Linked DNA regions of Homo sapiens. The protein of the gene in region 1 interacts with the protein of each later gene in a pairwise test. Each region holds a gene or a part of one and is shown on either strand. Other genes may lie near its edges.

Region 1 (4,330 bases):
CCAGGCTGGAGTGCAGTGGCACGATCTCGGCTTACCGCAGCTTCAAACTCCTGAGCTCAAGCGATTCTCCCTCCTTCAGGCTCCCTAACCCTAACCCCAACCTTGGGGCAGCTGGGACCACTGGCCTGCCTGACCTCACCCCACTAATATTTTTTATTTTTTGCAGAGACAGGATATGGGGAAAAGAAATCAGATTGTTACTGTGTCTATGTAGAAAAGGAAGCCATAAGAAACTCCATTTTGATCTGTATTAAGAAAAATTGTTCTGCTTTGAGATGCTGTTAATCTGTAACTTTAGCCCCAACCCTGTGCTCACAGAAACGTACTGTATTGAATCAAGGTTTAATGGATTTAGGGCTGTGCAGCATGTGCCTTGTTAACAATATGTTTGCAGGCAGTATGCTTGGTAAAAGTCATCGCCATTCTCCATTCTCTATTAACCAGGGACACAATGCACTGCGGAAAGCTGCAGGGACCTCTGCCTGAGAAAGCCTGGGTATTGTCCAAGGTTTCCCCCACTGAGACAGCCTGAGATATGGCCTCATGGGAAAGGAAAGACCTTACATCCCCCAGCCGGACACCCTTAAAGGGTCTGTGCTGAGGAGGAGGAGTGAAAGAGGGAGGCCTCTTTGCAGTTGAGATAAGAGTAAGGCTTCTGTCTCCTGCTCATTCCTGGGAATGGAATGTCATGGTGTAAAGCCAACCATTCCCATTCGTTGTATTCTGAAATAGGAGAAAACTACCCTGTGGCTAGAAGCGAGATATGCTGGCAGCAATACTGCTCTGTTGCTCTTTGCTACACTGAGATGTTTGTTTAAAGTGAAACATAAATCTGGCCTATGTGCACATCCACGCACAGTACCTTTCATTGAACTTATTCATGATACAGATTCCTTTGCTCACGTGTTTCCCTGCTGACCTTCTCCCCACCATCACCCTGTTGCCCTGCCACACTCCCCTCACCAAGAGAGTAAAAATAATGATCAATAAATACTGAGGGAACTCAGAGACCGGCGCCGGTGAAGGTCCTCACATGCTGAATGTGCCAGTCCCCTGGGCCCACTATTCTTTCTCTATACTTTTTCTCTGTGTCTAATTTCTTTTCTCAGTCTCTCGTCTCCACCTGATGAGAGATACCCATAGGTATGGAGGGGCAGGCCCCCTTCAAACAGGATTTTGCTTTGTTGCTCAGGCTAATCTCTAACTCTTGGCCTCAAATGATCCTTCTGACTTGGCCTCCCAAACTGGTGGAATTACAGGAGCTAGCCACCATACCAGTCAGGGCGCATATCTTAAGGATACTCCTGAGGTGGAGCTGGGCTTTTCCTGCAGAACCGCCTCTGGGAATTGTGCCCTTTACCCTCCTTGTTACCTAGGGAACTACATTACCCAGAAAACTCCGCATGGAATGACAGAGTGGAAGAGCCATGGGGGCTCAGAATAAAGGCATTTCCTGTGTGCACGTGACAATGGGTCCGGACTTCCGGCGCCCTCTGGTGGCGGCCATTTTGATTGGTGTTGGGTTTATTTGTCGGAGAGGCTCCTGAGCGCTAGGTCGGCACTGCGGTGACTGAACCCAGAAGGCGGAGAACAGTTGTCCTCTGCTGCACAGAGGCGACTCTGGAGCTCTGTGACGGCGCCAAGCGTGACCCACCCCTGGGCCAGGATAGGGACCGTCATGCCCATATCTCCTGGCTGGTCACCCTCTCCTCCCAACCCTGCTTTAAACCACGTGGTTCGATGGCGGTGGTGGCCACGCTGAGGCTCTCTGCTCAGGTAATTGTGGTGCCTTCCATGCCCTCAGGTCACCTCATCATCACCCAAAAGCCTGTAGTCTTGCAAGGAAGAGTCTTTAAGGTGGCAGAGCCATAGGCAGCAGATGCTGAGTTTTTATTAGGAGTGACTGTCAGGACAGCCCTTTTGAGCTGCTGAAGGCCTAATCTTTTATAGTCACTGTACCTGAGCGAGTTAGAGAAAACGCCACACTTTGAGACGAATTAAGAGTCCGTTTATTTAAAAAAAAATCCGTTTATTTAGCCGGCGGCCAAGAGATGGGTAACGCTCAAAGTTCTCGCGGCCCCAAAGAAGGGGCTAGATTTTCTTTTATACTTTGGTTTAGAAAGGGGAGGGGGGGTCTAGTTAAAACAATTTTACAGAAGTAAAGTAGGCAAGAAAAGTTAAAAGGATAAATGGTTACAGGAAAGTAAACAGTTCCAGGTGCAGGGGCTTTAAGACTATTAGAAGGTGATAGATGGGGGGCTTTGGGCGTTATCAATCAGACGAATTCCTGGGAACTGCGGATATAGCTCGCCACAGTATCTTATCAGTTAATTGCATTCTTGGATGTGCTGGGAGTCAGCTTGCACAAGTTAAGTCCTTGAGGAAGGGGCTGCCAGTGAAAGAGCCAAGATGGAGTCTGTCTGGCTCTCTTATGTAAGGGAGAGTCAATTCAGGTGGAAACAAGTCTAGGTGATTAAAGGAAAGGGAGAATCTAAAAACAGGGTTAGTAAAAACAAGGTTGGGCATTACATCACAGAATCCTCTAGTGAGAACTGATAGTGGAACAGTGTGCTCGTTGGTGACCTTACCTCGTTAGATGCAGTCTTTATTTTTTATTTTTTTGAGACGGAGTTTCACTCTTGTTGCCCAGGCTGGATGCAATGGCGTGATCTCGGCTCACCGCAATCTCCGCCTCCTGGGTTCAAGCGATTCTCCTGCCTCAGCCTCCCGAGTAGGTGTCATTACAGGCATGCGCCACTGCACCTGGCTAATTTTTTGTATGTTTAGTAGAGATGGAGTTTCTCCATGTAGGTCAGGCTGGTCTCGAACACCTGATCTCAGGTGATTCACCTGCCTCGGCCTCCCAAAGTGCTGGGGTTACAGGCGCGAGCCACCGAGCCCAGCTTATTTTATTTATTTATTTTTTTTTTTTTTGAGACAGAGTCTCAGTCTGTCACCCAGCCTGGAGTACAGTGGCGTGATCTCGGCTCACTGCAACCTCCGCCTGCCGGGTTCAAGCGATTCTCCTGCTTCAGCCTCCCAAGTAGCTGGGATTACAGACACCCGCCACCATGCCCGGCTAATTTTTTGTATTTTTAGTAGAGACGGGGTTTCGCCATGTTGCCTAGCCTGGTTTCGAACTCCCGAGCTCAGGCAATACGCTCGCCTCGGCCTCCGAAAGTGCTGGGATTACAGACGTGAGCCACCGTGCCTGGCTGTCTTTATTTTTTTATTTGTTTACTAAACAAAACATCTTACCCTTTATAGCAGAGTGCCCTGTGAAATACAAATTGTCTTTTTCTTTTTGTTTTTTTTTGAGACAGAGTCTCGCTCTATCGCCCAGACTGGAGCGCAGTGGCACGATCTCGGCTCACTGCAAGCTCCACCTCCCGGGTTCATGCCATTCTCCTGCCTCAGCCTCCCGAGTAGCTGGGACTACAGGCATGCACTACTATGCCCGGCTTATTTTTGCATTTGTAGTAGAGACGGGGTTCCGCCATGTTGGCCAGAATGGTCTCAATCTCTTGACATTGTGATCCGCCCGCCTTGGCCTCCCAAAGTGTTGGGATTACAGGCGTGAGCCACTGTGCCCGGCCAATTCTATTTAATTATTTTAATTTCTTTGCTGAATTTATCTGATAGAATTCTGAATTTTTTCTCCGTGTTTGTCTTGAATTTCTTTGAATTTCCTCAAAATAGCTATCTTGAATTATCTGTCTGAAAGGTCACGTATCTCTGTTTCTCCAGGATTCGTCTTTGGTGCTTTATTTAGTTTGTTTGGTGAGGTCACGTTTTCCTGGATGGTGTTGATGCTTGTAGATATTCGTCAGTGTCTGGGCATTAAACAGTTAGGTGTTTATTGTGGTCTTCACAGTCTGGGCTCATTTGTACCTGTCCTTCTTAGGAAGAGTTTCCAGGTATTTGAAAGGACCCGGGTGTTGTGATCTAAGCTGAATCTACTTTAGCGGGAACCCCACACTCAGTAATGCTGTGACTCTTGCAGACTCAGAGAGCTGTACCACCTTTGTGGTCTTGAATAAGATCTGAAAGATTTCCCTTGATTAACATAACAGGTAGAGACTCTTGTTGGGTCTTCCCTCACTTTGTCCCAGCATGTCTCTGTCAGTGCTGAAGTGCCTGAAACTGGGGGTTGGGACAGAAGCACCCCTTTAGCTACCACCACTGGGACTGTGCTGGGTGAGAGCTGAAGCCAGCACAGCACTGGGTTTCACCCAAGGCTCCTGTGACCACTACATGGCTATCGCCTGTGTTCCCTCAAGGCCCTAGCCCTGTACAGTCAGCAGGTGGCAAAGCCAGACAGGCTTATGTC
Region 2 (3,231 bases), on another chromosome or scaffold:
AGGGAGGAAAATCCCCCAAATTTCTAGGTACTTTCATATATATACTTGCCATGCACTAAACACTGCATTGCTTGGAAAAATATTTCACACCCTCTTTAAAAATGTACAATTTAAGATGGCAGTTATGCTTGTAACAGACAGCACTTCAGTAATCCAAGAAGTTTCTTCATTTATACATTTTATCTCAACTCTTTCTAGCATTAGTGCACATGGTAGTTTTTCTAATTAAATTGTATTCAAGGTAGAAATGATCATGTGAGAAAGATATATGATTGAGCTACTACTGTCACCTCTTACAGTTACTAGTGTTAGCTAATAGAAACTTTCATATATACACATAGAAAAGAATTATTACATTTTACATTGAAAAATGTAATATATGGCCCATGTAGTGTATAGAAAAATCTGTAGTTTATTGGTTCATCAACTATGTATTGTGCACCTACCTATGGGTGTCAGGTACAATGTTAGGTACTGTAGAATCAAATGTAAATAAGAGACAGTCCCAGCCCTCAGGGAGCCGAGAACCTAATAGTGAATCTGTTTGTACAGACATCTTCATGTTTCAGAACTTTTAAAACAAAACAAAATAATGTAATCTATCATCTTTTGCTTGAAAGAATGTGATTGATTTCTTATCTCTGTTTTGAAATTATTTCCTTACTCTTCTGCAAAGTCAGGTAATGGATTCCTTGTATAAATGCTACTTTTCTTCCATGTCTCAAAGTTGTTTTTTTTCCTCCCCTTTCTTCCCTGTTTTCCAATAATTCTCCATGTCCCCTTTTCTTAGAAAAGGCATTAATATGGTGAATCTTGTATGGGAACCATTCCATGGGAGAACTTCAACACAGTTTTTGCTCCAGAGATCAAACATAGCTTTCGTGATCTCTCTACCAGCTATCTAACTTATCCTCTGGTAATCTTTTTTTTTTTTTTTTTTTTTTTGAGATGGAGTCTCGCTGTGTCACCAGGCCAGAGTGCAGTGGCGTGATCTTGGCTCACTGCAACCTCTGCCTCCCGGGTTCGAGTGATTCTCCTGCCTCAGCCTCCCAAGTAGTTGGGACTACAGGCTACCACGCCCAGCTAATTTTTATATTTTTAGTAGAGACGGGGTTTCACCATGGTAGCCAGAATGGTCTCTATCTCTTGACCTTGTGATCCGCCCGCCTCAGCCTCCCAAAGTGCTGGGATTACAGGCGTGAGCCACTGCGCCCGGCTTCCTCTGGTAATCTTACACCTTTACAGAATTAATCTAAACTGGTGGCTCATAAATGACATTAAAAACAAAAAAAAAATCTGGATGCAGTGGCTCATTCCTATAGTCCCAGCACTTTGGGAGGCCAAGGCGGGAGGATCATCTGAGCCCAGGAGTTTGGGGCTGTAGTGAACTATGATCATACAACTTCATTCTAGCCTGGGTGACAAAGTGACACCCTGTCTCTAAACAAAAATCAAGAAACAAAAAACTTGTATTTCCCTGCAGCTTTGGGAAGCCAGAACACAATATTGCAGTGAATCTGAATTTTCTGTGACAAATAAATTATTAAATTGGCACATATGATCATCACCAGTCATGTCTCATCAAAAGCCTTTATTATGATGCTTGTACATTTTGAAGAATTTAGAATTAATGAGAAGTTAACCCTTTAGTCATTGTAACACAATCATATTTTAATCAGCTTTTTCTTTTGCTACCAAGAGTTTCAAAAAATAAATGCAGTATTTGATTTCAGGCTGCTAAATGGGCTCATTTAGCATTCATTCCTTGATGTAGACATTAAAAAAAAAACTGAATAGCATTCTTTCCAGGATAACTAATAAAGCAGACATGCTAAGCCTATAAATACATCAGCACTGCAGCACACGTTTAAGGTTGCCACGGACAAGGATCACACAATAGAGAACACTGTAGTAACATTTCGGTCTGCTCACAAGACCCAGAACATTGATCAGTTTTTGTTGTTGGTTTATTATTTTTCTGTTAAAAAATTGTGAAAAGTTTGTTTTAGCTAGATGATATTTTAATAGCTGCGAGTGCTTTGGAACTATAAAGATGTCACTACTTAACACATATACCTTATGTTTTGTTTTGTTTTGTTTTACACTCAGTATAAATCAGGAGAAGTTAGCCAACCATCTAGCATTTAGAATCCTCTTTTTTATTGTCTTCTAAGGATATGGATGTTCCCATAACAGCAACAAAACAGCAACAAAAACATTTCATAAATATCACTTGATAGACTGTAAGCACCTGCTTAACTTTGTGTCCCAAATATTTAGTGTGTATATATATATATATATATACACACACACACACATATATATTCAACAAATAAAGCAAAATATAACATGCATTTCACATTTTGTCTTTCCCTGTTACGATTTTAATAGCAGAACTGTATGACAAGTTTAGGTGATCCTAGCATATGTTAAATTCAAATTAATGTAAAACAGATTAACAACAACAAAGAAACTGTCTATTTGAGTGAAGTCATGCTTTCTATTATAATAACTTGGCTTCGGTTATCCATCAAATGCACACTTATACTGTTATCTGATTGTTTATAATAAAGAATACTGTACTTATATGTCTTTTGGCTCATTTTTCCTGTAAACCTCATAGAAGATTCACTGTATGTGGGTCTGCAGCTCCTTAAGTCAATTAATTTTAAACCATTCTATTTTGAAAATGGGATGTTAAATTCCACATGCTATAGAGAAATTAGGTAGTGGTTTTGAATTAAACACCTTAGAATAACCGTCATGAAGTATAGTTCTTGAAGATACTTCACAGTAACTTTAGAAAGGATATATGTAGAACCTTTTTCTGGATAGTAGCAAATACGTGATATTGCAGTATATAGGAAAGAATGAGCACTTTCATTATTGTAAACATCTGTACATTGCTACAGATTGCCTATTAGAAAGGTGCTAAAAGGCAACTGGTGAGGGAAAACTAAGATGAAATCCAAAGAAATATGAACACATCATCTAAAAATGTAAATTCTCAATTCCTTTCATCTAAATTTCCTTCTAATCTTAAAAAGGAAGGGGAAACTCTATTACCTATAAGCAGCTTTCTTATTTACTTGATCAGAGTTGTCAATTTTTTTAACGAAATGGAGCTCTGTATTCAAAAAAAGTGTTTTGTGGAACTCCAAAATAAAAACACATGAAAGATATGCCTGTTTAGATCCTGGTGGGGACCGTGAAGCCTCCAGTTTACACTGT

The links.
Region 2: the proteins of ZNF587B (region 1) and SMAD9 interact in a two-hybrid assay, tested with the Homo sapiens proteins (one large-scale study listed by BioGRID).

What each region holds. Positions count from the first base shown.
Region 1 is NC_000019.10:57,828,789-57,833,118, forward strand, and holds the start of ZNF587B (zinc finger protein 587B), read left to right. Parts: upstream 1-1,510; 5' UTR 1,511-1,740; coding exon 1,741-1,776; intron 1,777-4,330. UniProt on the Homo sapiens protein: May be involved in transcriptional regulation.
Region 2 is NC_000013.11:36,844,188-36,847,418, reverse strand, and holds the end of SMAD9 (mothers against decapentaplegic homolog 9), read left to right. Parts: 3' UTR 1-2,588; downstream 2,589-3,231. UniProt on the Homo sapiens protein: Transcriptional modulator activated by BMP (bone morphogenetic proteins) type 1 receptor kinase. SMAD9 is a receptor-regulated SMAD (R-SMAD).